Regions from separate parts of the Homo sapiens genome. Here region 1 is linked to region 2. A link means that fine-mapping ties the variant in region 2 to the expression of a gene that starts in the linked region. Tissue or cell type: whole blood. Region 2 holds a variant in brackets; the other region holds the start of a gene. All regions are shown on one strand. Distances are between the middles of the regions.

Evidence for each region. PIP is the estimated chance that this variant, and not a neighbour inherited with it, causes the effect. A credible set is the group of variants that fine-mapping cannot tell apart.
Region 1: SDCCAG8 starts here. The variant in region 2 is the best candidate, but not a certain one, in a credible set for the expression of SDCCAG8 in whole blood (TOPMed, PIP 0.55).

The regions. Positions count from the first base shown.
Region 1 is chr1:243,248,255-243,265,434 of GRCh38, reverse strand. It overlaps SDCCAG8 (SHH signaling and ciliogenesis regulator SDCCAG8), which reads right to left and starts at 9,394. Exons shown (of 18, transcript NM_006642.5): 1 at 9,195-9,394. The coding sequence starts at 9,261. It overlaps CEP170 (centrosomal protein 170), which reads left to right and starts at 10,154. Exons shown (of 20, transcript NM_014812.3): 1 at 10,154-10,395.
Region 2 is chr1:243,099,635-243,115,847 of GRCh38, reverse strand. LINC01347 (long intergenic non-protein coding RNA 1347) reads left to right here and starts at 14,104. Exons shown (of 18, transcript NR_029401.1): 1 at 14,104-14,462. RefSeq lists an enhancer at 1,304-2,055. The variant T/C (reference allele first, on the strand shown) is at 7,570.

The sequences.
Region 1 (17,180 bases), 150 kb before region 2:
ACTATGAACATAATATTACGTGAAATAATGAGCTATTGAATTCAACAACTATCCCAAAGAAAAGTGACACACAAGGCTTTAGGGTTTGTTTGTTTGCAACTACTGATTTCAGAGTTACTAGGGTCAGAGAGGAAAAGCAGGAATTTGCAAGAACTGTGCCCTAAAACTAAAACTACAGAGTTGACATTTTAAAGTCATTTCAACGCTACATTTCAAAACATGCTAAGTGCTTTTCAAATACATAACAAACCAGCATAATTATATACTATAACAGATAAACACAGTTAATGTGAAGAAGAATAACACTCAGATGATTCAGGACAGATGAAATCCCATGGCTCTTCAACTGGAGCCATTGCAACTGAAGCCCCCATAATCCTTATTAAGAGCACTACTCCCCAGATGCAGTTATCTGCTCCTTACATTTAAGGAAACCAGATTAGACAGAAGGTTCCAGTTACCGTTTCCTATCCAACTGCTAATGGGACACAGCTTTATCTGTTTCTAACCAAGAGAGAGAACACACTCATTTCCTCTTCTCTCCTGAGAGGACAGTAAGGGTATTTCACAATGAATGCATCCTGATTTCTTTTCCCCAGCACCAACCAGGAACTGACTATAAACTTAACTATGACTACAGACACAAACAGGACCCCTGAGTCCTACAGATCACATGAACGTAAGTGCAAGTAGATAATATTTCTGCTAATGCACTATCCAAACATCAATCAGTACAATGAGCACTTAAAAGGTACCTGAGCTAATGGCTGCTAGCTAATTTCAGTCTGTCTTGTCCATTTTCTTTCTTCTTTTTTTTTTGAGATGGAGTTTTCGCTCTGGTTGCCCAGGCTGGAGTGCAATGGTGCAATCTCGGCTCACTGCAACCTCCGCCTCCCAGGTTCAAGCAATTCTCCTGCCTCAGCCTCCTGAGTAGCTGGGATTACAGGCATGCACCACCACACCTGGGTAATTTTGTATTTTTGGTAGAGACAGGGTTTCTCCATGTTGGTCAGGCTGGTCTCAAACCCTCGACCTCAGGTGATCCTTCCGCCTCAGCCTCCCAAAGTGCTGGGATTACAGGCGTGAGCCACCCTGCCTGGCCTGTATTGTCCATTTTCTTAGTAAGAGTTTCCCTACTTCCTATGTTCTAACTCTTAGGTCACCACTGGGCCTGTCTTCATCAAGATGTTTTTGAACAAAATGCAAGTATGTCTCAGTCTAGGAAGAATCACCACTTAAATACACACTATGAATTATTAATTTCTTCATTCTCCATCTGTCCTGGGAGATGTGAAAGAGAATTGCCCTGGTGACAGGGAGGGGGACCACTCCCTGCGAAGCGCCCAGCTGTCTCTGAGAGAATATGCAATGAACCATTCCTCCCGAGGCCGAGATATGAGATGCACTGCAGCTCCCAGCACAAGCTTTGATTAGGGCAGACATGCAGAAAAATAAAACCACAGTGAGATAAGAAATACATGTCTATCTACACTTGACTGGGCCTCAGCCTGGTTCAGAAGATTGCTGTCACTGTTTACTAGGGGACCAACAGGTAACACTACCAAGATATAAACAGCAGAATCAAAAAATCAGACAATGTCGGCTTTGTGAAAGGCAATTACAATTGTGAAAGAGATTACAAGTACTATGTAGAATACTTTTTTGTTTGAATCTCAAAGAAAATACTATCCTAAGACTCTAATAACTGAAAACATGCTAAAGTGGTTGGCGCCAGGAGTAAAAGATAATCTGATAAAGAATGTAAACATCTTAAGAAAGCAATGTCTGGAAGACCATTAAAGATATGTGGGTGTTGGCAAATCCAGGAGATTGGCTATATGCATTCTAAGGGATACACCTGGTATTTCTTTGGCATCAGTGGAGAGGACTGATGCACCTGTCACTTTCCACTGATAAAAGAAGTAAACCTAGCCAGGCTGGCAAAGAACATAGGTAAAATCACCAGCAAATACAATCTGTATATCCTTACTTGTAATTACTGTAAAGTAGGATTCTTGCAGATCAAGGGCTACAAGCAAAGCCTGTACTTCTAGATCGTGATTTCTCAACCTCAGCACTATTGACAGTTTGGACCTGATAATTCTCTTTTGGAAGGGGCTGTGTTGTGCCAGTTTAATAGCATCCCTGGCTTCTGCCTACCAGAGGCCAGCAGCACTCATCTCCACCCCCAATTGTGACAATAAAAAAAAATCAATAAAACAAGACAGTTTTCAAGTCAATAAAACGAGATCAATAAAACAAGAGTTTTCAGTGTTGAGGGGAGACTTGCTATCACTCTGACCACATTACATTGTAAGTGTTGCCGCCTCTTGATGGAAAATGAGCGTGACAGTGAGCTATTCTGCCACAGGAGTGCTGGTGGGGAGGACACAGCCTGAGACCGACAGTGCCATGATGGGACACATCTGATCCAGGTGTCAGGAATAGGTGTTATATCTATCAGAAGCAAGAGCTCAGATTCATATTTAGCTTTATTTTGTTTCAGGGCCTAAAAGCAATATTTGCCCTAAGGCCATCCCTTTAAGTATCCAGTGGGCTTTGATGAAGTTCCGCCATCATCAGGATTGCTTCAGCCAGTGCACAAGGGCATTTCTAGCTACCTTGTCTACTTTTGGACTCTGAGAAGAGTTATCATCAAGTAAAATGGTGAAAATCTTAGCACAAACTGGCAATGTGATCAGACCATAAGTCTTTAAACATCCCAGGAGAGAATATTATTACTCTCAGTATCTCAATAGTTTGAAAAAAACTTACTCTATACCTATTTCTGACAAAGAACATGAAAAAGTACCCCTACAATCTCCTAACACTGAAACATACCTTTGATTTAGATTATTCCAGGGATGACTATTTACTTGTAGAACACTCATTTCTTTTCTGGTTGCTAAATCCTGTCTTTTGCCAATTTTATCTCATCAGTAGTAGGAAAGAAAAATTGAGATTGTACTTTTAAGTTCTAGTAAAATAAAAGATCATAAAAGTTAAAGGCACTAAGAAGAGCCACATGAGGCCAGGCACAATGGCTCATGCCTGTAATCCCAGCACTTTGGGAGGCCAAGGCAGGTGGATCACTTGAGGCCAGGAGTTCGAGACCAGCCTGGGCAACATGGTGAAACCCTGCCTCTACTAAAAATAAAAAAATTAGCCGGGCGTGGTGGTGGCACCTGTAATCACAGCTACTCGGGAGGCTGAGGCAGGAGAATCGCTTGAACTCAGGAGGCAGAAGTTGCAGTGAGCCAAGATCACATCACTGCACTCCAGCCTGGGCAAAAGAATAAGACCCTGTCTCAAAAGAAAAAAAAAAAGTCGGGCACCGTGGCTCATGCCTGTAATCCCAGCACTTTGGGAGGCCAAGGCAGGCAGATCACCTGAGGTTGGGAGTTTGAGACCAGCCTGACCAATATGGAGAAACCCCGTCTCTACTAAAAATACAAAATTAGCCAGGTGTGTTGGCACGTGCCTGTAACCCAGCTACTCGGGAGGCTGAGGCAGGAGAATCGCTTAAACCTGGGAGGTGGAAGTTGCAGTGAGCTGAGATTAAAAAAAAAAAAAAAAGAAAAAGAAAAGCCACATGAATATATAAAACAAAAGATGAATATGTATAATTTGAATTTTATCAGCAAAAAACCCCTCATGTTTATGTGTGTATATTCCTATATAGTGCATATGGCAAACAATATTTAAAAATCCAGAAAATATTTGAGAAAAGCAAAAAAGAAATACAAGTTTTATAAGAAAACAGGAATACTTATTTGAGTTACACATATGTTTTCTTAAGACAGCCAGATGATATCACTGCTGGCTAATACACTGACCAAATTGTTGGCTAGTAAGACTAACACAGCCCTTCTACAATTGTGAGCCACTTTGCAGGATTTGGATAGATGTGCTAATCATATACAAGCAAAACATAGAAAGTCAACCTTATCTTTGGTTTTCTTGAACTACATCAATTCGTAAAGACAAGGCCCATCCCTGAGATTATATATTTTCTTCTCATATTCATCCTCTCACTTTCTGTGTACCTGGTTCAACTCCTTACTCTCATTTCCATAAGACAAAAACATAGCCCTTAATCATTCATCTGGTCCAAACAAGTGCTGATGGAAGGAACATTAATGATCAAAGGGTCAGAGAGTGGTGTCTAAAGGGGAATCAGGCTCTGGGTGTGTTTTGCTTGGCTTCCTTCTTGGAAGAAAAGAGGGAGGAAAAGAGGGAAAAAGAGAGAAGAAAAAAAAGGAAGCAAAGAGGGAGGGAGCAAGGAAGAAATTGAAATGTTTTTAGAAAAAGCAGAAACTGCCCAATTTGGCCATAAGCCTCATCATTTCCCTTAATGTCTTCCACTGACTCCATCATACCTTTTGATCATTTGCTTGGCACCTAAAGGCAATAATTCTCACATCCAGTCCAAACTTTTCGTTTTACAGTTGAGGAAACGGGAATCCAAGAACAGTGTGTTTCACTTGCCTAAGGTTACCCAGATGGTTGTCAGCAAAGCAAAAGTAAGTGCAGTGACCTGGCTCCCAGCTCCACATTCTCTCCTCTGACCCCACCACACTCTTCCCATAAATTCATCTAAAGGCTGAAACACCAAAATGTTGACAGAAAAAGGTAAAACCAGAATGCAAAATGTATATAGAAAATCATGAGTTCCTGTCATACAAGAAGTTTGTTTCATTTTTCCTTATACTCACCCAACCAAAGGTGGCTAGGAATGAGGTGAATAGGTGAGTCATGTATACAGGTGTTGTTGATAAAATTGTTATCTATTCCCAACGCTGCAGCAAGAGATGAGACATGATTCTGTTATTAAGGCTAAAATACTGCATTTCTAGCAATTTTTCTCCTTTCTGATATCCCCTTACACTCAAGTGTGCAGTACTTAAAATAGAGCCTGGATTGCCTATAATTGTGGCTTTTTTCACCCTTTCTTGGCTATGAAATAGTTCATTTCATACCTCTTGGCTTTATACAACGATGTATTGAATTTAGAGAAGGCGCATGTGCTATCTTGCCCACTTACAAATGTAGTTCTCGGCCATTCTGTGGTTGTTGAATTATAACTACCCATAGAGTAAATGAACACCTAACCTTACTGCCAAGAGACCTCCCAAATCACTTCCAGTTCTAGATTAAATTCTGTGGTTCCCAGGATACCCAGGACACATACACTTTTAACCACACTGGAAACTTTCAGACCATTTACTATGTAGGAATAATACAACAGATCTGTGGGGGCAACAAAGCCTTCCGGTTTTTCTGCCAGAACTCTCGTTTTGAAGAAGAATCATTAAATGTCTCCAATTTCTTGTAAAAGGGCATAGGCGACCCAAAGCAAGAGATATCTTTAGAGAAGTCAAACAGCAAATCCACTGAAAAGTGTAAGGGAATGGATGAAAGGTGAATGTGGAGCTGCTCCAAGATCATCAAGGTCAAAATGAGGCAAGGATCTCATTTTAAAAGCAAGAAAGTAAACGCTGACTCAGTTTTCACATTACAACTTCAAATTATTGATATACCATAATAGTACCAAAATTAAAGAAATGAGGAAAATATCTTTTTTTGTTTGTTTGTTTTGGAGATAGGATTTCACTCTTGTTACCCAGGCTGGAGTGCAGTGGCGCGATCTCAGCACACTGCAACCTCCGCCCACCGCAACCTGCGCCTCCCAGGCTCAAGCAATTCTCCTGCCTCAGCCTCCCGAGTAGCTGGGGTTACACGCGCCTGCCACCACGCCTGGCTCATTTTGTATTTTTAGTAGAGACAGGGTTTCTCCATATTGCTCAGGCTGTTCTCGAACTCCAGACGTCAGGTGATCTGCCCGCCTCGGCCTCCCAAAGTGCTGGGATTACAGGCGTGAGCCACCGCGCCCAACCTCATTTTAAAAACAAGAAAGTAAATGCTGACTCAGTTTTCACATTAGAACTTCAAATTTTGATATACCATAATAGTACCAACATTAAAGAAATAAGGAAATTTGTTTTTGTTTTTGTTTTTGTTGTTTTTTGAGACAGAGTCTCGCTCTGTCGCCCAGGCTGGAGTGCAGTGGCGCGATCTCGGCTCACTGCAAGCTCCACCTCCTGGGTTCATGCCATTCTCCTGCCTCAGCCTCCTGAGTAGCTGGGACTACAGGCGCCCGCCACCACGCCCGGCTAGTTTTTTGTATTTTTTTTTTTAGTACAGACGGGGTTTCACCGTGTTAGCCAGGCTGGTCTCCCATCTCCTGACCTCGTGATCCGCCCGCCCCAGCCTCCCAAAGTGCTGGGATTACAGGCGTGAGCCACCACGCCCGGCCCCAGGAAAAGATCTTTTTAAAATGGAAGTACGATCACGGAAAATAGGGAAAGCATTTTGCATTTTTATGCGGCCACTTCCTGGCTGAATATCAATGAAGGGATATTAGTAGTGACTACATGTGCAGTTATTTACAAGCTAGAGGAAAAACCGGTGAGGAAAGACCAAGACTGTTTATTAGGCTTCCATTAATCATAAACTACGCAAGGCATTTGGGGAAGTAATGGTGGGTAGACAAAACCAAACAAACCAACAAAACCAAAACAAAATAAGACATAGAACTTTAAACTGCATTTTATCTTACTACATAGTAATACAATTCTTAAATTATTAGGCACACTCAAAATAAGGAATTTCCACATAACTCCAGCATTGTTTATTAAGGAACAGAATACTTTACTTTAAAGGGAATTATCAGCCGGGCGCGGTGGCTCACGCCTATAACCCCAGACTTTGGGAGGCTGAAGTGGGCGGATCACTTAAGGTCAGGAGTTCTAGAGCAGCCTGACCAACATGGCGAAACCCAGTCTCTACTAAAAATACAAAAATTAGCCGGGCATGGTGGCGCGTGCCTGTAATCCCAGCTACTTGGGAGGCTGAGGCTGGAGAGTTGCTTGAATCCAGGAGGCAGAGGCTGCAGTGAGCCGAGATGGCACCACTGCATTTCAGCCTGGATGACAGAGTGAGACTCCATCTCTAAATAAATAAATTATACTACTCAAAAATAGCAATTTATATTTGTGAAGAACTTCTGACTGTACTTAAGTTCAGAGTTAATTCTGTTTTGTTTCCTTCCAGAAGCTGTTATATAAGCTAACATACAAAAATAAAAGTGCTACTAAATAAATGATATGTCCTGAAAAACCCATAAACATTTCAGGTTACATTTCCTGATTCACTGTTAAAATTATGAATACGTTTTTTTTTAAGTTGTTTAACTTTTTCTATCCTTCGTATTTGCTCTTGGTGAAATGTTTCCACTACCTTATATTGTTATCACACTAAATTTAAATTTTATTTCAAACTAATTTTAAAATGTATTATCCTTAAATGAAAACCCTTCATTCTGTAATTATTGAAAGCAGTACCACTAGTATTAAACATATTACTATAACATTAATTTAAAATGAACCCCTTTACTGCGTCAAAATGCCTAATGTTAAACAGCCTCCGACAATTATATAAAGACTTAAAATAAGGTCAAAGGAAGAGAAGCATCAGGAAAAACTTTCAATGAAAACAAAAAATTTTTGCCAATCTTAAAAATTACAATTACTCATATCATTGTGCACAGTATTTTTCTTGCTTCCAAATGAAAAGTTAGAAGTGCTTATTTTGTATCTAACAGCTCTTGAAACATCAGTAGGTTGAGGAAGGTGTTCATTAAAACCGATTTTTTTACTCCTGCAGTTTGAATACTGAGAATGTCGACAGTTTGTTAACACAATTGACAGATGTAACAATACATAGTAACCCTTATAAAATCTAGAGTCATGAGAAGATAAACTTTCTAATATTGAAAAACCTTCACTTTGCTTTAAGTAACAAGTATAAATAACAATTAACATTTAATGAGTGCTTGTCTAGTAAGCACTGATCTTTACCCTTACTTTCTATCATAGTAATCTATAATTATTTTTTTTTTTTGTCTTTCTCCCCAACTAATCCAGAAGCTCCATGGGGATAGGAACTTTGTCTTGTTCCTTACTGCATGCCTAGCACCTAGTATGCTTAACACATAGTAGGAGGCACTGACACATAGTAGGCATATTATGCAGAACAACACATGCTTCATAACTTAGTATTCTCAATGTCGCAAACAGTCATGACCTAGAGGCTTATGAAAATGCAACAGAATAGAAAGCAGAGTTTATTACATTTAGTAGAATAAAAATTCTTCAGTGAAACTTATAGTTTATATGTACACATATGTCCCATATAAAATTTATTTCTTACTATAGGTAAACATTTTAAGAAGTCTTAAAATCACTGCTTTATGGGGATTATTTCATTTGCTCCCCACAATAACCCTATGGACAATTCCATAACTTCCATTATAACAGAATCGAAATTTCTAGATGTTATATATGCTGTCCAAGTTGACAGCGCCATCTAAAAGTACAGACATTAAGTCCAACAGAGCTTAAAGGAAAATAAATACAGACATTATTTGTACAGATACTTGCTCATATGGTAATGTGGTAAGAAAATCTAAATTAATAAGGTTTTGATAATAGTAATTATGGCTTGATTAGTAAATACAAACATAGGCTTTGAAGGCAAGCCTGATAATACCTGGCTCTGCAACTAACCAGCTGTGTGGGCTCTGGCCTGTAATTCAACCTCTCTGAGCTTCGCTTTCCCCATGTGTAAAATATTCACACGATTGGTGTAAGCTGCAGATGATTTACTGTATGTAAATAGCCTAAATCAATTAAAAGGGGGCTCTTGTGATTAAAATAATTATTAGTGTTTCCCCCCACTGATCCCATAAATCACATTCAATCCACTGTGCCATAATTTAAATGTGTAAAAACTGTGAATCAGACTTTTATTGGATTAAATAGCAACGTATGGGAACTGAACAAAAATGGCATAGAGCTATCCAAGAGTTTCTGCTGTCGCCGGTTGAGAAAGATGCCAAGTTAAGATCAAGGAGTTGATTGAGGTAACTACGGGAATCTGAGGAAACATCGTTGCTTAACTGTAAAAACTAAATCAAACTATTTCATCCTCCTCAAGACCACAGCAACATCCATCTTGCTCCTCTGTAGCGTGGACGGGGCAGAACCCAGGTGTTAGGAAACGCACCTGGTCTGCTCCCGCCCACTAGGCCCTGGGCACCTCGGGGCTAGGGACAGAGGTTTGGAGCAACTCACCCCGGAGACTCCGTTGATACTGCCCCAGAATCTCCTCCAGGGTAGAGTTCTCCGGGGACTTCGCCATGCACGCACTCTAGGCCCAGAGCTGGGAGTTACGTGGGGAAATGTCCAGCTTTCTCCCTTCCGAGAACAACAGGCCTGTGGCCGGGGAGCGCCCGCCTGCTTCCTGCCGCGGCTGTCACAGGGGAGCCTAGAATCCCGCACAGAGCTCTTGGGGGCTCTTCCCACCCACTGGCCCTCGCTTTGCACGTCGGGAGTTGTAGTCCTCACGTTCAGAACCTGCAAGCTCGACAATCCTCAGGGCCTTCCAGTTACACTACAATTCCCAGAAACCACTGCGCTCCAGGCGCTAGCTTGGACGGTTTGGCTGCCAGAGCCTGCTGCCAAGAGACAGGCTTGCAGGCCCCGCCCTTTTCCTCCAGCCCAGCCTGGTTTAGTCCCGCCTCCATCCCACTCTTCAGCTGCCTGGACCACCCAAATGACAGAAAGGGCTCACTGAAGGCCTTGACGCTTCGAAATTTGCTAATATGCAGCAGTTGATCCCCAGGCTACTCAAGGACGCAGATAGTAAACTCTGAACCCTGCTTCAGTTGCGAGATTTTTTAAAACGGTCGAATAAATCTTCAAGAAATAGAAGCTCTAAATCTTCCAAACAGCCTAGATTGTAAAGGCGGCCGACACTACAACTCCTAGCATGCCCAGCAACCGGACCTTCACTTGGAGTTGGCGCTCTGCCCGCTGGGAACTGTAGTCCTTGTTGGTTGCGGTCCCACCTAACGCCGAGGTCCTCTTCATTGTTCAAGCTGGTCTTTCGGGGCACGCCTGCGCAGTGGGCAAGCTGGAAAAGCGTGTGGGTGAGACCCTCGCACAACCCCTTTTCATTGTCTGTGTGTGGCGCCTGCGCAGTAAGGGATCGTTGGAACTGGGCAGGAGGGGATAGGGTCCGGCTCCTCGCCCTTTCCCGAGGCGCCTGCGCACTAGGCAGTCGGTCTTTGCCGTTACCGCTATGTGTGGGGCGTGTGTGGAATAACGTTATTGCCCAGCGGAGCTGAGGGCCCCGGAGCTCGACCGCAGCGGCAGCGACGACAACAGCGGCGACGACGACGACGACGAGGTGGGGGGAGGACGGCGTGCGAGAGACTCACGGGACGCGACGCGCCCCGCCTCCCCCGTCCGGTCCCTCTCTCCACGGTAAGGGGTAAGTGATGCGATCGGCTGCTCGGTGTAGGCGCCGCAGCCGCAGCCACCGCCGCGGCTGCTTTCCACATCCTGCTCCTCGGGTTTGCGGCGAGGACTCGGGCGCCGCCCGCCGCGGGGCGGGGGTGCGGGGCTGGACCGCGAAGGGGGCGCTTCCCGGGTGCTCCGCGCGGCGCCGCCACCCCCACCCTCTGCCCGCCTGGGACCCGGGGCTTGACGGGACCACCCTTCCCATCCCCCACCCGCCGCCCCCCGGAGCTCCAGTCCTGCGGCCCCCCGGCTTTCCCGAGCCCCTTGCTGCCGCCTCCGCATCCCCTAAGTGCATTGAATCATTTTCAGCTTTCGACTGGCTTTGTGCAGCCCTCCCCCCTCCGCCGTAGCAGTTTGCGAGGGGTGCGGGCGGAGCATTGGAGGGAATGGCTGCGCTGCCGCTGGGGAAGGGATTTTTCCCCCATTGGAGCAGCTCCCCGGGCCAATCCCTTTTGTGTGATTGGTTTTGGGGTGTGAGGCGGTTGGCGAGGTCAGGCGAGCAACCTTTTGGACGCGTTGGGAGGGCGTGGAAGACGCGGTGTCATGCACCCTGCCTGGCGACTGCACCCCGTGGAGGCTCTGGCTCTGTAGTAAACCCGGGGGAGGAGAGAGTGGCTTCCTGTCGGCTTCATTGTCCTAGGATTCAGATGTAGGGTTTTGGTACGTTTCGCTTCCATTTTATGCAAGCGATGAAAAAATAACATTTGCAGCTGCCTAACACAGGGCGGGAAGACGTGGGATTTGTATACTAAGTCACAGAATCTCTGTTCGGTGGTGTTTCGTAGAGTTTTATTTATTTATTTATTTATTTATTTATTTATTTTGAGGAATGTAAGGAAGACAGGGACTATGCCTGCTGGAGTCCAAGCACTGCCAAGGTGATCAATATAAAATTACTAGGTGACGTTGGAGCCTGGGCTAGAGAGGGCCTGACAACGAAGCTGTTGTGTCAGGGAAATGAACAAGCAGAATTGTTTTTTCATTGGGCAGGTAATGCATTTATGTTCCTGAGGGAATGGATACATCTTTCCGTTTATTTTTTAAGCAAGTAAAACAAACAAAACAACTGGCCCAGTACATTTCTGTTACCGAAGTTGTTAACTCATTTTTATTCTCTTAATGAAAATTCAGCCATTTGGGAGGAATTTGGCGAAGCAGATGATACATTTGATTGAAAATGCATATTTTAAAATGATTTAATCCTTAAGCTTACAATGTATGCAGCCGTTTGCTGGCGTTGCTTCTTAAAACACACCAGAAGAGAGAATAAAGCAGGATGGGGAGGAGCAGGTGGAGGAATAATGGGAGAGGAGAGAGTGACATTATGACTATAGTATCTGGATCTTCACTGGTATAACCCTAACTGGGTATGCTTCAGAGACTTAGGAATTCAGCTCTGGAAACAGTACACTGATGAATAGCAACTTATGTATTTTTCTGTTATTATTTTTTAAAAAGTAAAACTAGGGCTGCCTTTAGCTCTTCCTAACTTTGTAGATAACACGGAAGAGCCCAAGTGCACTTGACAGAGGAAGACACTAAAACTCAGAAAGTTAACTGACTTGTCTGCCCAAGCCAGACAGTTAATCGAAGGCAGAGCCAAACGAAACTCAAGGTCCATTCTGCAGAGTGATCTTTCCTGTGTCCCCCTAGCCCTTTTACCTTGTGAAAATGTATGGAAAGCTTCTCTATGTGCTCCCTGAGTAGGCTGTGACTATCACTGAACTTGATTCTCACCGTGATTAATCTAGTTCTTGCCTTTGTGATGTAAAAGTAGTAATCCTCCTAAAATGGACCTTTACTTTCATAAAGTAACTTACTACATGAGGAAAGATGTCCTAACATGTGCTTTTCATAAAAACGAAGTGTTGCAGTGTTTTCCCTACTACCTAATGGTAGCTACTTAACGGTAGGTTTTAATATTATTTCTTGAAAATCAATAGTATTTTATAATAGTATGATGATCAACTCTATAGGCTGTGTTAAAAATAAAATTTCCGCATAACAAGAACCTATGATGTTTATTTTGCCACAGTTAATGAGTTGTAATCATTAATGAGTTATTAGTGATTACTTTTAACTTAAACTAGAATTTACATTTTAAGATATATTAACTTTATGTTTTTTATTGGGTTGATTTTGCCATAAAGTGCTTTTTTCTTCCCTTATAATTTTAATCGTTTAATTTTACGTTGCATTTTAATAGACTTCTTTAAAGGATTTATTATTTATCTTAAATTTCAACTTTAAAAATCTGTAACTAAATTTCAGTATGTGGGATTATATTCAATCATGCTTTAAATGTATTTTACTGGTAAATTTCATTGTGTTCTGAGATTATTTTGTATGGAAATAATCTGCCTGTTCCCTATTTTAACATTAGAATAGTGAAATTTATACTGTAAACCTTAGCATACATTCTGCATATTAATGCTGTTATGGTACTTTTTAAAATTCTGTGCTTCGTGATTTATTTGATTTGTTCCAAGTATCAGTTTCTTGTTCCTTTTTATCTACTGAAAAAAAGAACTAGTTTTATTATTGTATCTGATTGCAATTAGATAATGCTCATCTAGTACTAAATATTGTATATGCTTAAGCTTTTTTGTCAAAATGTTTTTTATTCCACAAAATTGTATTCCTGAAAAATATTTTTTCTATACTAATTAATAGGTAAAGACTTTTCTTTCTTATCTGTCCCAAACACTGGGATGTTAAGCAGTGTACTCTTCAACTAAGTATCTGACAGACAACCTGATATTTAATTGCTAACTAAAGTATCTGTACAGTTGCAAATTATTCTGGAAGTATAACAAAAGAGCAGTTACGTGCCATTTGAAGAATGCTTGGTGAGTAGATAGTATTGACTGGAGCATTCAGTGTTGATCTGTTTCATTAAGAAATGGGATACTTTTGATGGGAAGAAATATCTTTATTTCATTAATAACCAAAATTTCTAATCAGATACCCTAGGTTTTTATTTACTTACTCAAAAATTTCATAAAGGAGTGTTCAGCAGTGAGTTAGCCATTGTGAGAGATAAAAAACATCTGTCTGGTAGTGTGGTTGATTAAACTGGATATATTGTCCAGTTTAGCAGAAATGTTTTAGCCAAAGCCAGTGACATAGCCAATGTGTGTTGCTGTTAAAGCCCACTTTTATATCAAATAAAGGTGGAAAAACAAAACAGCAAAAGCAAAGTTAAAGAAAACCTCATAAAATCTACTTACATACAAACAGGAATTGCAGAAAGTATAGAAGTGGAAAAGAATCCCAAGCATGCATTGTTGAGGTCTGAAAAACAAATGACACATAGCAGAGAACAAGTCATTTTTTAAGTATATCCATAAGTAATAAATGATATAGAAAATATTACCCTTTGAAACACAATATTTATTGAATCGTTGAATAATACCTACCAAATTTTGAACATTTCCTAGGTGCCAGGAAGTTTATGTGTGTGTGGTGTGTGTGTATTTAATTTCTGCAACAAACTTCTAAATTAAGGTATTATTTTTACACATTGAAAAAATTTGAAGCATAGAGTTAGTGAATAACTTTGCCTCTGCGTTACACATTCCTAAGTGATAGGGCCTATAATTGAACCTTTGTCTTTTTGGCTAAAGCCAAAATTCTTTCTACTCATCTTTTTTAGTAAGTTAAAGGGTACCACTTATTTCCTTACTCTGGTTCATAAAATTTTAGAATTCAAGGGAACTTTAGAAGTCAGCTCATACAATGTATCACCCACTACTAATATCTCTGAGATGTTATTGGGTCCAACTTCTCCACAAACCCTTCCCTGGGCATAGGAAAGCCTGTTTAGCTTCCAAAAAGTGTAATAGGAAGATCTCACTTAAATTGAGCTAGTAGCTGCTTTTACTATATAACTTCTTCCCACTGGTTGCAATTCAGTCTTTAGGAGTAAGATGAAGTAAGGTTTTTCTCAATATATTAGCTAGATTTTCTCTTGTCTAAATGTTAGGACACCTCCAACTTCATATGGTTTCCTTTGCCATCCCTCACATCTCTCAGCTGGATTCAATCAGTTTTGTCAGTGCTATTCTTTGTGTTCTGATCTTGTTTCCATATTTAATTCTGCAGTTATGGTCTGAATGCAAAGTGCAGTGAAATTGTCCCTTTCCTTATTTCAAGCCATACACTTGTGTTTAAAGTCTAAAATTGTATCAACTCTTTAACAACAGTCATCTCTGCTAATTCAAAGCAAAAAGCAGAGAGAGAGAGAGAAATGTTACATGGCTTTTCAAGTTATATTTATGTAATTCAAGGTACTATTTTTTGAGATTTTGTTCTCCTTTTCTAATGTTCATAAATGGCCTTTATTAAATGATAGTGTTAGTAACACCTATTAAGTAATGATAGGTTAAGTTTCTTTTGATGTTGGTCATGGGGTTTTGTTTTATTTTAGTGTTCCTGATTAACCAATAAAAAGTTGGCAGCCTTATGTTGATTCTTAATTTGTTTTCTGAAAAATTGGTCTGGAAACCACTGATGTAGTCAACATAAACCAACATTTTTACACTTAGCTAGATTTCTCCCATTGTGTATAAACACACAGGTGATGTTTTTAAACCAGTATTTTACCATTGCCTCCTATTAAATTTCATCTCCGTGAACGTAGCTATAGTTAAAACTTGAGATCTTCTTGAATCATGATTCTGTCATCCAAGGGATTAGCTTTCCTTCCTGGCTTTTTGACATTTATAAATTCAACAAGCCAAACTCTTATGTCTCCATCCTGGCCATATACTTAATATAGCCAAGGACAAAGCCATGCACATTTATAAATAGAATGAATGTTACATAAATAAAAGATGCTGGGAGGAAAGGTGACACAAAAATAATGAAAACCATTCGGATGGGTTTTTTTTGTTTGTTTGTTTTTGGGGCCTTTTTGTTTGTTTTTGTTTTTGTTTTTTTGAGACGGAGTCTTGCTCTCTCGCCAGGCTGGAGTGCAGTGGCTCAGTCTCGGCTTACTACAACGTCTGCCTCCTGGATTCAAGCTATTCCCCTGCCTCGGCCTCCCGAGTAGCCGGGACTACAGGCACGCCCGGCTAATTTTTTGTATTTTAGTAAAGACAGGGTTTCACCATGTTGGCCAGGATGATCTTGATCTCCTGACCTCATGGTCCACTGCCTAGGCCTCTGAAAGTGCTGGGATTACAGGTGTGAGCCATGGCGCCTGGCCTTGTTTTGTTTTTTAAATTAAAGAGAAAACCATTATATCCTCCAGCAGTAAAGGAATTAGATGAAGTTTACAATATACTGGAGGATATGGATAATTCTTTTACGATGTAAAGTCAAGTAAGGATAGATGCTATGAAGAAAAATTAATCAAGGTAAAGAGACAGTGGTAGAGGACTGCTGTTTTACATTTGTTTTCAAGTGTTCATTCAGGTAGTTTTCAAATAATATTTTGAAAAGAAATAATATGAAAAACCTTTTCACCCTACATCTTATCTGCTGAGTTACCACTTTTGCCAATCCAGTAAGTAGCTATTTTTATTATTTCTTATGTATTCTTCAATGAACTTTATTTATTTATTTATTTATTTATTTATTTATTTATTTTGAGACAGAGTCTTGTTCTGTCGCCCAGGATGGGGTACAGGGGCAGGATCCCAGCTCATTGCAGCCTTGACCCGCTGGGCTTAAGCAATACTCCCACCTCAGCCTGTTGAGTAGCTGGGACTACAAGTGTGCGCCACCATGCCCAGCTAATTTTTTGTAGAGATGAGGTCTCACTATGTTGCCAAGGCTGGTCTTGAATTCCTGAGCTTAAGTGATCCTCTTTCCTCAGCCTCCCAAAGTTCTAGTATTACAGGCATGAACCACCACGCCTGGCCATGAATTTTTCTTCACCTCAAGCAAATATAAATACATATTTTGTGTCCCCTCTATGACACAAAAAAATAGCCTCTTTATCCACTATGCTACACCTTGAGAACTATCTTAGAGTGGTTAGGGAATCCCTCTTTCTGAGGTGACATTTAGCAGAGAACTTGCATTAGGTAAGGAAGCATCTTGTAGGTATCTGAGTGGAGAGTATTCTACTCAGGTGCGGTGGTTCTGAGGCAGGAATGGGATAAGTGAATTTGGAGAACACTGTGGCTGAAGGTGAGTGAGGAAAAGGTGCTTATAGGAGGAAATGAGGTTGCATAGAGATTTTATTCATTGATTTTAAGTGCTATGAGCATTCATTGGAGGATTTTGAGCAAAGCCAAAAAATTGGGTTATATTTTTAAAGAATGGCTCTGGGAATTCTTTAAAACACTGGGAACCATGAGATAAGCTAGGAAATGATTGGAATGATCTGGTTTAAGAGACATTAATGGCTTAGACTAGAGCGACAGTAGTGGCAATAGTGAAAGTTACTAGTTTCTGGCTTTAGAGAGTCAAATGTTTTGGATATGTTAAGTTTGAAGTGTCTGTTAAACGCCCAAGTGGACACATCAGGTAGGCAGTTAGATATGTAAGTCAAGCATTCAGAGGAGAGGTTTGGACTGAGGATAGTTAAATGTTAAGCATCACCAGTAGACTTAAAGGGATCTCTTGGCTAGGGAGTTAGACTGAGAAGAGATCCAAGAATTGAGAATTGGTACTTTCCACATGGAAAGCTGAGCAAAAGAGAAGGCGCCATCGAGGAGGATTGAAAAGTGGACAGTGGGGTGTGAGGAAACTGAAGAGTGTGTTGTCCCACAAGCCAAGTAAAGGAAGTATTTTTAGAGATAAGGA
Region 2 (16,213 bases):
AGAAAGGATTACTTCCACACTAAAAAATGAGGATCCTAGGTCCCCAGAGAGGTCACCGCAGAGCCACTGGGGAGACAACGTCCCGAGAAAAAGCTGCAGCAGAGTGTGCCTGGGCAGCTGGGGCTGCGGGCAGCCTGGGAAAGAGGCCCCTTGGCCTGATGTCCACATGGAAGCAGCAGGGACCCCTAGGACTCACGGGTCAGGCTCCCGGGACAACAGGCTCTCCAAGGTAACTCCTGTGCAGAGCTTGACACCGTGTGGGAGTTTGTAGCATATCTCGGAGGGGGCAGTGGGATACCTCGAAAAGATTGAATTCAAGCATCTTCCCAGTCTGCTGTGAAGGGGAGTTTGAAATAAAAATTCAGCTGGTTTAGAGAAAATGTGATATTTTGTGCATATCCAAGTTTCTGTATTGTGGATTGATACATAAATATATATATGCATATGTAAAGAGAGATAGCTGTTTATATATATTTATATAGATCTATCTATAGCTATACCTCTCTCTGCATATATATACATAACTCTAAATATATACGTGTGTGTATAGATAGATATACAGATATATGTGGAGAGAAACAGAGCCTATATCTAGGTAATCTAACCTTAACCTTTAACAAAATACTGATGTAGTTCTTTTTCTTTTTTCTTTTTTTCTTTTTCTTCAGAGGCAGGATCTGGCTCTGCCACCCAGGCTGGAGTGCAGTGGGGTGATCATAGCTCACTGTAGCCTCCACCTTCCTGGGCTCAAATAATCCTCTCACCTCAGCTACCAAGCAGCTGGGACTACAGGCATAAAACACCATGCCCATCTAATTTGATTTTTGTAGAGGTGGGGTCTCACTATGTTGCCCAGGCTGGTCTCAAACTCTGGAGCTCAAGCAATCCTCATGCCTTGGCCTCCCAAATTGCTGGGATTACAGACGTGCACCACCGTACCTGGTCTGTGAGGCAGCTCTTACTGCCATTTTCTGGGGTGAGGAAACAAGCCCAGGCAGATTTGGTTATTTACTTCTCGCCCCAAGGCCAGAGGAAGCAGAGCCAGGGTTTCAGCCAAGGTCACTTCCTTTGGGACAATCTTGCAAATGGAGGCCAGGCAAGGTGGCTCACACCACTAACACCAACATTTTGCGGGGGGTCTAGGCATCCAGATCACTTGAGTCTAGGAGTTTGAGACTAGCCTGGGCAACATGGTGAAAACCCGTGTCTACAAAAAATACAAAAAAATTAGCTGGGTATGTTGTTACACACTTGTAGTCCCAGCTACTTAGGAGGCTGAAGTGGGAGAATCACCTGAGCTGGGAGGTCCAGTCTGCAATGAGCCCTGATCACATCATTACATTCCAGCTGAGGCAAGAGTGAGAGCCTGACTTTAAAAAAAAATGAATAGTGCCCCACTTTCACTCCCCGAAGTGTTTGCATTTGGTTAACAAATTTTAACTTCATCCACATTTGATGACCACAGCGCTCTCCATCACTTCCTGCTGCCTCATTTTCGAAAGCAAAGAGAGTAGGAGGAACCCCTGGTGCTTGGGGCACATGCCCTGCAGGGTGCATGCCCTTTACAAAGTCATGGGAGCTGCGGCTCCAGGAGTCAGACATCGAGCAGCTTGGAGCATTTGGCTTCCTTCCTTTGCGTGCCTGGAGCATTCACAGAAAGCCTGCACAGCAAGCGAGAGAGTGCTGGGGAGGGTGGAAGCTGTTTGGATTAGGGTCCCCAGGGGTTTTGTGGTTCAAAGCAGGTGGAGCACATTTTGAGGGCCTGATGATGTATACCATTTAGGAAGCCATTTAAAAGACAAAGAATACAAAAGTATGAATACAAAATTTGGCAGTAAAGTGAATATTTAGAGACTAGAAGTCACAACAAACCAAAAGTTTCAAAAAGCTGGGGGGAGAAAAGCCACAAGATCACCAAATCCAGGAAAAATAAATCTCTACAATTTTTCCTGGATTTAAAAAATTTTATTTTCAATTGACAAAATTCTGTATATTGTTGGCAACATGTTGTTTTGAAATATGTGTATATTGTAGAATGGTTATTAAATTGAGCTAATTAACATATGCCTTACCTCACATACTTTTCATGTTTTTGTAGTTCAAACATTTAAAATCTACTCTTAGCAATTTTTAAGAATACAATTATGTTGGCTTTTTTTTTTTTTTTTTTTTTTTTTTTTTTTTTTTTTTTGAGACGCAGTCTTACTCTGTCACCCAGTCTGGAGTGTAATGGCCCGATCTCTGCTCAATACAACCTCCACTTCCCAAGTTCAAGCGATTCTCTTGCCTCGGCCTCCCAAGTAACTGGGATTACAGACACGTGCCATCATGCCTGGATAATTTTCGTATTTTTTTTTTTCAGTAGAGACCCAGTTTTGCCATGTTGGACAGGTTGGTCTCGAGCTCCTGACCTCAGGTGATCTGCCCGCATCAGCCTCCCAAAGTGCTGGGATTACAGGTGTGAGCCACCACGCCCAGCTCAATATATTGTTATTAACCAGAGTCACCATGTTTTACAATAGACCTCTTGAACTTATTTCTTCTATTTCACTGAAATTTTGCATCCGTTAACCAACATCTCCCCAGCCACCCAGCCTCTGGTAACCACCACTCTACTCTCTGTTTCCATGCAATCGACATTTTTAGATTTCACATTGTATAACAGTGAAACAGCAAAAGAACATAACTAACTCCATTATTGTTTAAGGGGCCTTCACCCATTCCAGCATATAGGCTAGGATAATTTTAGAGCACGAGATAAAACACAAAAACAGCCATCTGAGATTAAAGGAGAAGTATGTAAACTACATTTTGTTAAAGATTTATAGGAGTGGAGCACAGTGGCTCACACCTATACTCCCAGCACTTTGGGTGGGAGGATCACTTGAGTCCAGGAGTTCAAGACCAGTCTGGGCAACATAGTGAGACCCCATATTTACAAAAAAATGGAAAAATTAGCCACACATGGTGGCGTGTACCTATAGTCCCGGCCACTGGGACTGAGGCAGGAGGATGCTTGAGCCCAGGAACTTGAGGCTGCAGTGAGCCATGATCATGCCCCTGCATTCCAACCTGAGTGACAGACCAAGATCCTATTAACAATAAAAAATAAAAAATAAAAAGATTTATAGGAGCATTGTGACCTGACCAAAAGCTAAGACTTTCCCCACCTTCTAGGGCCCTTACTGGCACCCAGATGTCTGTGGTCAACAGTCACCTATTGATCCCATGCCCCTCCTCTTCCTTCTGCTCTTAACATAAAAAGAGACTGAAATTTATCCTGACTTAAGGTGGCACTTTAGGATGCTATTATCTTCTTGGTTTACTGGCTCTCTGAACAAACCTGGCTTTTGTCCCACCAACACTTTTTTTTTTCGAGATGGAGTTTAGCTCTTGTTGTTGCCCAGGCTGGAGTGCAATGGCAAGATCTGATCTCTTGGCTTGCTGCAACCTCCACCTCCCAGGTTCAAGCAATTCTTCTGCCTCAGCCCCCCAAGCATCTGGGATTACAGGCACGTGCAACCACGCCTGACTAATTTTGTATTTTTAGTAGAGACGGGGTTTCATCATGTTGGTCAGGCTGGTCTCGAACTCCTGACCTCAAGTGATCCACCTGCCTCAGCCTCCCAAAGTGCTGGGATTACAGGCGTGAGCCACCACACCCGGCCTGTCCCACCAACTCTTGTATCTCATGTTTGACTTTTGGTGAGTACCTGAACCTGGGTTTGGTTACAACACATAAATGAGATCATGCAGTATTTGTCTTTTTGTGCTTGGCTTATCTGACTTAGCATAATATCCTCCAGGTTCATCCATGTTGTCACAAATGACGGAATTTCCTTTTTTTAAGGATGAATAGCATTCCACTGTGTATATATGCCGTACATCCCACATTGTCTTTATCCACTCATCTGCTGCTGGACACTTAGGATGCTTCCATATCTTGGCTATTGTGAATAGTGCTGCAATGAACATGGGAGTGCAGATGTCTCTTCAACGTACTGATTTCACTTCCTTTGGATAGATACCCAGTAGTGGGATTACTGTAGCATGGCAGTTCTATTTTGAATTTTTCAAAGTATCCCCATACTGTTTTGCATAAGGGCTGTAGTCATTTATATTTCCAGCAATAGTATTGAAATATAAATAACTATACAAACTTATAAATATAAATCATCTCCACATCCTCTCCAACACTTGCTATCTTTCGTCTTTTTGATAATAGCCATTCTAACAGGTATGTGGTGATATATTATTGTGGTTTTACTTTGCATTTCTTTGATTAGTGATGTTGAACTTTTTTTTTTTCATATACCTATTGGCCATTTGTATGTCTTCTTTTGAGAAATGTCATTTCCTGTATCATCTGGCTATATTCTCTTTGCTGGCCCCAACATGTGACGACAATTTTGTAATATCATTTTCCATGGAGAGAAGAGAAAGATACTCAGTCTTTCCTCCGGCGCAGTTGATCAAGTTTGTTTTTTATGGTAAGACTTCACACATAGGTGTACTTGCTATTTATCGTATTGCTATAAGTTTGTGCCAAAGAGGCACAGGAGTTCTGATGAATTCTATTTTCTTTCACTATTCCCATCAGGAAAGAAAACTGATGAATGGTACATTTATAAATGTTTATGTTGCATTCACAAGCATATTCCTGGTGAAAAACTTACTTTTGATGAGACATTAATAAAAATCTGCTTCTCTGTTTACAGTATTAAGTCAGGTGATTGAAAGGTTATTTACCAAGAACTTCAACTAGACTTCTTAACAGCAACAAAAACTAGAATGCAGAGGACTAATTTATATTGTTTATGGATGTATATTTATGTAGAAGAAGTAAGAAAGCAGATGTGGGGATGATATACACTAATTTTTTTTTTTTTTTGAGATGGAGTCTCGCCCTGTTGCCCAGGCTGGAGTGCAGTGGCACAATCTCGGCTCACTGCAACCTCTGCCTCCCATGTTCAAACGATTCTCCTGCCTTAGCATCTCGAGTAGCTGGGATTAGACGCACTCGCCACCATGCCCAGCTAATTTTTTATTTTTAGTAGAGATGGAGTTTCACCATGTTGGCCATGCTGGTCTCGATCTCCTGACCTCAAGTGATCCACCTGCCTTGACCTCCTAAAGTGCTGGGATTACAGATGTGAGCCACTGTGCCCAGCCCATACACACGAATTTTGAATAGAGTTATATCCAGGGATGGAGGGAAAGAGAGGATGATGCACACTGGGTGAGGCAGTAGCTGGACTGTAATATTTTGTTTATTAAGTAAATAGCATGTTTACTGAAAAGATGGGTTTGAAGCAAATAAGATAAAATATTAACAGCTGTTTTATCTTGGTGGTATACCACACAATTTATCATTTTCTGTGTCTTTTGTATGCCTGAATTGTTTCACATTTTTAAAAACTGTTTTAAGATATATTTCCTTTTCCCGTTCATTATGTTTAAAGAATGCCAATCAGTTAAAGGACTGAAATTGAGAGTGAATTTCTGGTATTTCTGATCAAGGAGAGTAAATCATTGGATCAACTTCTCATAAACTTGGTGGAGATAAATGTAAAAAGAAAAAAATGACGCTGAACTTCTTTTCTGAAACTGAGCTAGCACTTCCGAAAAGAGCAAAATCACAGAACCCAGATCCATTAAGCTTGTTCTTTGGCTCATGCAATTACATACACGAGTTCTTACATCCAACATTCAGACCTCTGTATCTCCTGCTTTGCATTCAGGAACATTTATAGTCAATGAATATCTGAATACCTAATAGAATTACTAATGGTGATTTTGGAATTCCATTTTTCTAAGTTTTTTGTTTGTTTGTTTGTTTGTTTTAATACAAAGTTCCTTTGGTCAATGACTTAGCTGTGGTCTCGCCTAGATACAGGGAATGGACTTCTCCAAGTCCCCAAGTATCTCTTGTGAGTTCATCACACGGTTACATAACATATTTCCCTGGCTTATTGCCTTAATTGGCCTCCAGAATTTTCTAATTTGGGAAAGTGTTCCCAGAAAACAAGATAGAGGGATTGGGAAGAGTGACACAGGGAAGGAAGGAAGGCAAATGGGAGTGCAATCTCAGCTTGTTCACTCCTGGAGGCAGCTGAGGCATGACTGCGCAGGGGCTCCTAATGAGCCACGGAGTGACTTCAGAATGGACGGCCTGTGCGCCTGAAAGAGGGAGGGAACCTTTATTCATCAATTTCCAGCTCCGATTCTCCAAGGGGTGTTCTTGGGGCATGAATTCTCTTGTGCGTTGGGATGATGCTTGTGTGAGTGCTGGGCCGATTGTGGCAGGTGTTCCATGCTGTGGTGTCAAAATGCAAGAGATATGCTGCAGCAGAGGGGAGGTGCTGGGAGGTTTCATCTGCTCGAAGCTGCTTGCTCTAGCAATAGCTAGAGTAAGAGATGGACGAAGGGTATGAGCCAGGGCCTAAGTTTTGTGCCATCAGGTGATCCTGAGAAAATGGCAATCTCCTGGGTTGTGTGAAACGAAAACCTACTGCTCTGCCCTTCTTCAGTCACACAAGAGAAGACAAATCCGTGTGTTGTTCCTGTCACTCAGGGGGCAAAACCGCACATCAGGGTTGCTGACTTTTAGCACTGAAAATTATTATTTTTTATTATTATGTGTTTGAATCAAACAATATTATATGAAATAGGCCATGTCCTGGTTTTCGGAGAAAGCAGTAAATCCATTCCAGAGTCCCTCGGGAGTGTCCCAGTGCAATGCATTTGGAGAAAATGCTCTTCATGAAAGGCCATTAGGGTTATTACATCCTTAATAAAATAGGCAAAAAGAAGGCATTTTTCCCCTTTTACATTTTATGTTATAAGTGTGTGTTGGCCGGGCGTGGTGGCTCACGCCTGTAATCCCAGCACTTTGGGAGGCCGATGTGGGCGGATCACGAGGTCAGGAGATTGAGACCATCTTGTGAATGGTGAAACCCCGTCTCTACTAAAAATACAAAAAATTAGCTGGGTGTGGTGGCGGGCGCCTGTAGTCCCAGCTACTCGGGAGGCTGAGGCAGGAGAATGGCGTGAACCCGGGAGGCGCAGCTTGCAGTGAGCTGAGATTGCGCCACTGCACTCCAGCCTAGGTGACAGAGTGAGACTCCGTCTCAAAAAAAAAAAAAAAAAGTGTGTGTTATAAGGATAATGATGATGCAAGGGCTTCATTAGGACAAAATGTTGCCTAAACTGCATTTTTTTTTTTTTTTGAGACAGGGTCTCACTCCCATCACCCAGACAGGAGTGCCGTGGTGTGAACATGGCTCACTGCAGTCTTGACTTCCCTGGGCTCACTTAGGTGATTCTCTCACCTCAGCCTCCCAAGTAGCTGAGATTACAGGCGTGCACCACCACACCCAGCTAATTGTTCATAGTTTTGGTAGAAACTGGGTCTCACCATGTTGCCCATGCTAGCCTCAAACTCCTGACCTCAGGTGATCCACCCTCCTCGGCCTCCCAAAGCGCTGAGATTACAGGCGTGAGCCACCATGCCTGGCCAAAACTGCATTATTTATCTCGATTTTCAACTTTGGATTCTCTAAGTAGCCA[T/C]GATTCACCCTCACTGGATTTGGAGAAAGCAAAAAAATACGTGAAAATATTTTTTATCTTAGACTCTAAGATCATAATGAGAAGCTTATAACTAAGGCTGTCTTACAAACACCTGCGATAACCTGCTAGAAATGTCAATATCAATATACACGCCATGTCTGCACCTGTCTAGTTACAACTGTTGGCTGCACATCTGGGGAAACCGAGGAAGAATACACCCCAAAGTGCGGGGAGCCTGATGAGTTCACCAAACCCCAGGCTACCAGGAGGAAAGGAAATCCCTGGAGCCTTGAGTTAGGTGGTTTTTAAATAAAACAGTGGGCAGAATTATTTTGTGCTTCAATAGGAAATGTATGGGCATCCCCTCACCAAGAGGCTCTATGTCATCCTGCTGAATTGCTTGAAAAAAGAACCCAGGCAATCCACGCATGACAGAGTCATAATGTTTTGTGAGAGAAATGAAAAGGCGTTTGGGGTGTGTTGGGACTGACATCTGGAAGGGAATCACGTGCGGCTCCGTACTCTATTCCCGTGACTCCAAAATCAGAGACGGTTGGCAGAAACAGACCACTCACCGAAGCCAGGGGCGGTGCCAGGGGAAGACAGGAGGCTGATATTTGTTGCTGAACACCCATCATGCGCCACATAGTGAAGTGGAAAGTGGTTGCTCACTTCTAGGTTTGTCTGTCTCAAAGTGAGTGTCCCGCTGCTCCAAACCACGCAGGGTCCGGCTACCAGCTGCGCCCGCTGCTCTCCAGACATTGAACAGGGATCTCGGCAGTCTCCAGGCCTCAGGGTCAGCCTGGTCGTAAGGGTCTCGGACTCAACCCTGGCAGCCAGCTGGGATCGCTTCCAGGCAAGGGTCACAGGACATTACATACTGTCCAATTTTATCTGAGTCAGCGAAAGAGCTCATGTTGCTCAAGGAATTCTACAGGGATTTGCCCAGAGTGGAGTAGGCTAGAATGAAAAACTAGCACATCGAAGGAAGAAAAATAACTTCAGTGTTTCCAAATTGTGTTTCTGGATACCTGGGATCATGAGACTCTAGGAAAATCTGATCGGCTTTTTGTTGTGTTTCATCCCAAAGCAGCCGGCTGACTAAGAGGATGAGACCATTACCGTGAACCGCAGCAGCAGCAGCCAGGCCATTTTCTATCCTATGTTTTAACTGGCAAAGCGCTGCCATATACTTATGTCACAGAATGCTCAGAATAACTCTGTTGGCATGTTTTACTGACCCACCACACAGATGAGGAGAGATGGAGTGTACTAGTGACCTCCCCACAGTCAGAGCTTCTTTGTGGTAAGGCCGGCGTTACCACCTGGATCTGTTGACTGTGGCTCCAGGGGACATTCTGTGACACGGGAGAACCTGAGTTGAGACCGACTTCATCCAGGGTGCACTGGGAATCTGCCTGTGTATCCCACAGATGTTTCAGGCTTACCATGTTCTAAATTCAACCCCTGATCTCCCATCTTACACCAAGCCCACTCTACCTGCAGCCTTCCCCACCTCAGTTACAGCAATGCCATTCTTTTTTTTTTTTATGTGTTTTTGATAAATCTATTCTCCCCCAGCTTTATTGAGCTATAACTGACAAATACAATTATATAAATTTTAGGGGTACAATGATGATTTGATATGTTTATATATTGTGAAATGATTACCATAATCAAGTGAGTTAAGATGTCCCTTGCCTTCTGTGGTTATGTGAAAGGAAAATAAAATCTCTGGGACCTCAAACCCCCTATGGCAAAGGGAAAAGTTAAGTTTGGGAGCTGAGTCATGCAAAAAACAACAATGACAACAAAAAACAAAACCTGCTTTCCTTTTGTTCCTAGACTCACAGCTGCAGGATAGAAGGCCACATACCTCTCCAGGTGGCTTCCCTCACCCTGTGTATTAGTTCATTTTCATGCTGCTGATAAAGACACACCCGAGACTGGGCAATTTACAAAAGAAAGTGGTTTAATTGGACTTACAGTTCCACGTGGCTGGGGAAGCCTCACAATCATGGCGAAGGCAAGGAGGAACAAGTCACATCTTACATGGATGGCAGCAGGCAAAGAGAAAATTTGTGCAGGGGAAATCCTCTTTTTAAAACCATCAGATCTCGTGAGACTTATTCACTGTCAAGAGAATAGCATGGGAAAGTCTTGCCCCCATGATTCAATCACCTTCCACCAGGTCCCTCCCACAACGTGTGGGAATTCAAGATGAGATTAGGATGGGGACACAGCCAAACCAGATCACCCTGACAATGTAAGATAACTAACAGCTTATCTTCACGGGTGTGGAACAAAGACAAGACTAGAAATCATCCCTCTGCCCACCCCAAAACAAATGCATATTTGACTTCTTTCTCTACTCTATTTTTATCTTATGTAAAATGCAGATTTACTGAGCGTGACAAGAATGTGTAATTGACTGTTCCTCTATACCCTCCTCTCACATGTAACATGTGAATTCAGTAAGCACTAATGAAAGTTTCACAAGAATATAACCACTTATCTGGCTACCTACCCACTCTTTTCTTTCCTTTTTCCCCTCCTGCTGCTCTTTCCCCTTTAAATATTGAAGTCTTCAAAACCCTCTTTGGAAAATACATGGGCCACAGATTGTATGGGAACTTGTGTTTCTTTTTCCCAGTGCATCCTCAACCTTGGCAACATGAACCTCTAAATTGATCAAGGCCTGTCTCAGACACTTTTTGGTGTACAATTACCTTCTGTGTGTGTCTGTGTGTGGTGAGAACATTTAAGATCTGCTCTCTCTTAGCAAATCTCAAGTATATAATAATCAGTAACCATAGACACCATGCTGTACAGTAGATTTCCAGAACTTATCTTCTATCTGAAAGTTTGTACCATTTGACCAACCTCTCTCCATTTCTCTCACTCCCCAGCCCCTGGCAACCACACCTCTCATCTCTGCTTCTAAGTTTGACTTTTTTAGATTCCAAATGAGTGAGGTCACCCAGTATTTCTTTCTCTGACTCTTTATTTCACTGAACATACTGTGCTCTGGGCTCACCTATGTTGTGTCAAATGATAGGATTTTCTTCTTTTAAGGCTGAATATTATTCTGTTGTGTATATATACTCCATTTTCTGTATTCATCTGTTGACAGACAGGTTGATTCTACACCTTGGCTATTGTGAATAGTGCTGCCATGGACACGGGAGTGCAGATATTTCTTTGAGATACTGATGTTGTTTCCTGTGGATATATATCAGAAGTGGGATTGGTGGATCTCATGGTAGTTCTATTTGTAATTTTTGGAGGAAGCAGCTCCATATTGTTTTCCATAATGGGGTACTAGTTTATGTTTCCACTAACAGCTTAGAAGTGTTCACTTTTCTCCACATCCTTACCAACCCTTGTCATGGCTTGTCTTCTATAGTAGCCATCCTGACATGTATAAGGTGCTGTCTCATTGTGGTATTGATTTGCATTTCCTTGATGGTTCATGATGTTCCGCATCTTTTCATGTACTTGTGGGACATTTTGGTGTCTTCTTTGAAAAACGTCTTCAGGTCCTTAAGCCAACTTTGTTTTTTCAGTTACCCAAGTAAGCAAATAAACAAACAAACAAAATCCTTACAGTCATCGTTGTCTCTATTTTTCTCTCACACCCACATTCGATTTGTCATGAAATGCCATGAACTTGACCTTTAAAAATATCCAGAATTTGGCCACTTCTCACCACCCTCACAGCTGTCACCCTGGTCTGAATCACCGTTGACATTTGCATGGATTCTTGCAATGGCCTCCTAATTGGTCTCCCTGCTTCTTCCCTTTGTCCCCAATATAATAGCCAGAGTTATCTTTTTTTTTTAGACAGGGTCTTCCTCTGTCACCCAGGCTGGAGTGCAGTGGCACCATCTCTACTCACTGCAACTTCCACCTCCCCGGTCTCAAACGATCCTCCCACCTCAGCCTCTGGAGTAGCTGGAACCACAGGCAGGCACCAGCATGCCCAGCTATTTATTTTGTAGTTTTTGTAGAGGTAGGGTTTTGCCATGTTGCTAGGCTGGTCTCAAACTCCTGGACTCAAGGCATCTGCCCACCTTGGCCTCCCAAAGTGTTGGGATTACAGGTGTGAGCCACCGTACACAGCCCAAGGTGTTTTTGTTTTGTTTTGTTTTGTTTTGTTTTTGAGATGGAGTCTCACCTGTCGCCAGGCTGGAGTGCAGTGGCACAAACTTGGCTCACTGCAACCTCCACCCCCCAGGTTCAAGCGATTCTCCTGCCTCAGTCTCCTGAGTAGCTGGGACTACAGGTGCACGCCACCGCACTCAGCTAATTTCTGTAGTTTTAGTACAGATGGGTTTTCACCATGTTGGCCAGGATGGTCTCTATCTCTTGACCTTGTGATCTGCCTGCCTCGGCCTCCTGAAGTGCTGGGATTGCTTACAGGCGTGAGCCACTGCGCCCGTCCCAGAGTGATCTTTCAACAGGTGACTTAGATAATAAGTCTCTGCTCAGAACCCTGTACTAGCTCATTTCACTCAGTGTAAAAACTAAAGTTCTTACAACGATGACAAAGTCCTCTTTGTTTGTCCCACCCCATTGCTGTGATGACCTCCAGTAGGAGGAGTAGCTACTACGTGCTTCTAATCTACTCCAGCCACCCCGGCTTCCTTACCACTCCTCCGGCATCTCAGGCACGCTTACTCCAAGGTCTTTGCTCTAGATGTTCCATCTTCTTCAAATGCTCTTTCCTCATATTTTGCTTAGCCAACTCCCTCACCTCCTTCAAGTCTTCTCGGGGTTTGAAGAACTGAGAACTGTCTAACACCACATCCTGCTCCGTATCATTGCATTCCAACCCTGCACGCCCGATTCTTTTTTTCTACAACCCTTATTTCCTTCTATGTTACTATATACAGGTAACCGGTAAACTGCGCTATTATTCAAATACATACTCTGACCCTCTCAGGAGGATTATCCTTTCCCCACCCCATTGGCCTTGGACATGGCTACGTGACTGGGTCTGATTGCTGACATAGAAGCAAAAGCATTGTTACTTGTAGGCAGAAGTTACAGGAGCCAGCGTGTGGTTTACCATGTTCTTTATCCTGCCATAATGCCTTTTGCATCTGACTTCTTTCACTTAGCAGTAGTATTTTTGAGTTCACCCATTTTTGAGTTTATGACACCTTGTTCCTTTTCATTGCTGAATAGTATTCCAAAATGTGACTGAACTACAATGTGTTTATTCAGAGTTGCAGATAATGGCTACTCCATCAGGCTGGGTCCTAGAAAGATGACAATCTGTCACAGAGCTGTAGTTAACCAGTAATTGTCAGGTCTCATGGGTCAGAAATGAACTATTGTGCTAGAAGCCACTGAGATTCTGCAAACTAACCTAATTGATGCATATCTGTGTTTTCTGCTCATTGATGGATCAGAAGCATATAGAAAGAGTTTGGAGTGTAGCAGGTCTTTAATAAATATTTGTTAAATGAATAGATGCTGAGGAATGTGATTTAAGGAATGGCAGGAATATTCCAGTCTTGAAATATCCTTCCCTCTCTGCTTTCTGAAACTTGAAACTGTAGTATTATAAATGTACCCTTTTAGGTTAAGTATTATTACTCACTTTTAACATTATTAGAAGTATGCCATAATTGTTTTAATTAGTATTTTTAGTATAAATGATGTGTTAAACATGATTTGGGACAAAGAAAACACATGCTAGTAATTGGAAAGAGTGCTAAAAAATTATCTCTCTATTCGTCAAATGACTTACAGGTGAATAACTCCTGTTCTAGAAACTGAACCGTAAAAAAATTGGGCCCCCTTTTTAAAAATCATTACACAATTTATCTCTGATTCTCAAACTTCTGTTATCATTAACATTATTTTTTAAGTTTTATAATTTTTTTTTTTTTTTGAGGCAGAGTGTCGCTCTGTTGCCCAGGCTGGAGTGCAGTGGCGCCATCTCGGCTCTCTGCAACCTCCGCCTCCCAGGTTCAAGCCATTCTCCTGCCTCAGCCTCCCAAGTAGCTGGGATTACAGGCTAGCGCCACCATGCCTAGCTAATTTTTGTATTTTTTAGTAGAGAAGGGGTTTCACCATGTTGGCCAGGCTGGTCTCAAACTCCTGACCTCAGGTGATCGACCTGCCTCTCCTCCCAAAGTGCTGGGATTACAGGTGTGAGCCACCGTGCCCAGCCAAGTTTTATAATTTTAAAATAGCTTTATTGAGATACAATTTACATATAATAAAATTTGCTAATTTCAGGTATACAGTTCGATGGCCTAAAATAATTTTTTTTACACAGAGTCTTGCTGTGTGGCCCAGGCTGGAGTGCAGTGATGCGATCACAGCTCACTGCAACCTCTGCCTCCCGGGTTCAAGCGGTTCTTGCGCTTCCGTGACGTCACAAGGGCGCGCCTTCCGTGACGTCACAAGGGGCGCCTTCCGTGACGTCACAAGGGCGCGCCTTCCGTGACGTCACAAGGGCGCGCCTTCCGTGACGTCACAAGGGCGCGCCTTCGCCGACACCATAGCGGTGGGCCTTTGGCGACGTCAGAGGCGCGGGTGTTCGCCTACGTCACTGGGGCGCTACGGTGCCTGGAGCTGGGCGGTCTTCTCGTCAGAGTGGGGACTGGTGAGAGCGACCTCCCCGCCAGGTCCTGTGTGTTGCCGGCTGAAGAAGGGTAGCTGAAAAATTCAGACCCAGCACAGTGTTTATGTTGGTCAAAAATAGAAAACTATGGCGCGGCCGAGGCGGGAGGACCCTTCAGGCCAAGAGCAGCCTAGCAACATGGCGCAACCCCATCTCTGTAGTCCTACCTCAGCCCCCCAGCTACTTGAACCCAAAGATTCAAGGCTCCAGTGAGCTATGATCCCACCACAGCATTCCAGCCTGCGAGATTGAGGTAAACCCTGTGTAAAAAAATTAAAAAACTATCCAGGTGTGCAATAAAACATGAGGCTGGCTGGGCCCTACTGTAATCCCAGCACTTTGGGAGGCCGAGGCGGGAGGATGGATGGCTTGGGCTCAGGAGTTCGAGACCAGCCTGGGCAACATGACGAAACCCCGTCTCTACAGAAGATACAAAAATTAGCCGGGCGCGGTGTGCACCTGGCCTAATTTTTGTATTTTTTTTCTAGAGATGGGGTGGGGTGGGGGCTCGCTATGTTGCCCGGGCCAGTTTCGAACTCCTGAGTTGAGGCGATCTTCTCACCTTGGCCATCAGAGTTGTCGGGATTACAGGTGTGAGGGACAGCGCCCCACCTGGGTTAGGCTACTTAATAACATAAGAAAGTGCTCCGCCAGGCTCAGTGGCTGACACCTGTAATCCCAACACTTTGGGAGGCCGAGGCGGGTGGATCACCTGAGGTCAGGAGTTGGAGACCAGCCTGGCCATGGTGAAACCCAGTCTCTACAAAAAATACAAAAATTAGCCGGCCGTGGTGGCGCATGCCTGTAGTCCCAGCTACTTAGGAGGCTGATAAAGGAGAATTACTTGAACCCGGGAGGCGGAGGTTGCATTGGGCCGAGATCGCACCACTGCACCCCAGCCTGGGCGACACAGCGAGACTCCAAAGTTTGACACCAGCCTGGGCAATGTAGTGACACCCTGTCTCTACAAAACAAACAAACAAAAACCCAGGCATAACTGTGTCCACCTGTGGCCCTAGCTAGTTAGGAGGCTGAGGCAGGAGGATCACTTGAGGCCAGGAGCTCAAGGCTGCAGTGAGCTATGATAATCCCACTGCTTCCCATCCTGAGCAATAGAATGAAAGCATGTCTCTAGCTAGCTAGCTAGCTAGCTAGCTAGATAATTGATACGGAGTTTTGTATCAAATTTTTTCCCTAGATTTGAGCATGTTTTTCTAAAGTAGCATTCAATACATCAGCATTTTACAGTGTTATTATTTGTTAATATGATTATGTTTTTCTGAAATACAGTGTCCTTTACAAAAGCAGTTTTGTCTTTCAAAGGACATAGATAAGGCCCTCAAGTGAATTTGTTTGATGTTGGCGACCTTGGTACCATTTTGTCCACTTGATTGGAAAAGCCAGTCAATAATCTCAGGTCACTGTTGGCCTTAGAAGAAGAGCCCAAAGGCAACAAGCAAAGGCGCTGGTGTCCAGTCGCCTTCTAGAAGCATTTTCACTTTCCCTTAAGGTTTCCCTTGATGAACATAGAAGTACTGTATGTAGAATTGACCCAGTGCTGCCCTGGCAACTTTGTATATTAGCCCAAATTTACATTTCTTACCTTTATGAGAGGCACCCTGGTAGGCTAGTGGAGTTACACACAAAGTCTGATCTCAGCTGCACTGTCCAGAGATGCAACACGGTCCAATCAAATAACATTCTCTGAGCCCGTTTCTTTAGCTGTGAAAGAAGAATAACACCCATCTAAAAAGGCAGCTTATTGTATTTGATTGGTCTTTTATTTTCTATGAAACTGTGTTTAACACAGTAATTATTTTCATTTGTATACTACATTTGTGTTGTGTTTTTGGTTTTAGTTTTGTTTTTGAAATGGAGTCTTTCTTTTAGTGGTTTTTTGTTTTGTTTTGTTTTGTTTTTGAGATGGAGTCTTTCTATTGTCACCCAGGCTAGAGTGCAGTGGCGTGATCTCCACTCACTGCAACCTCCACCTCCCAGGTTCAA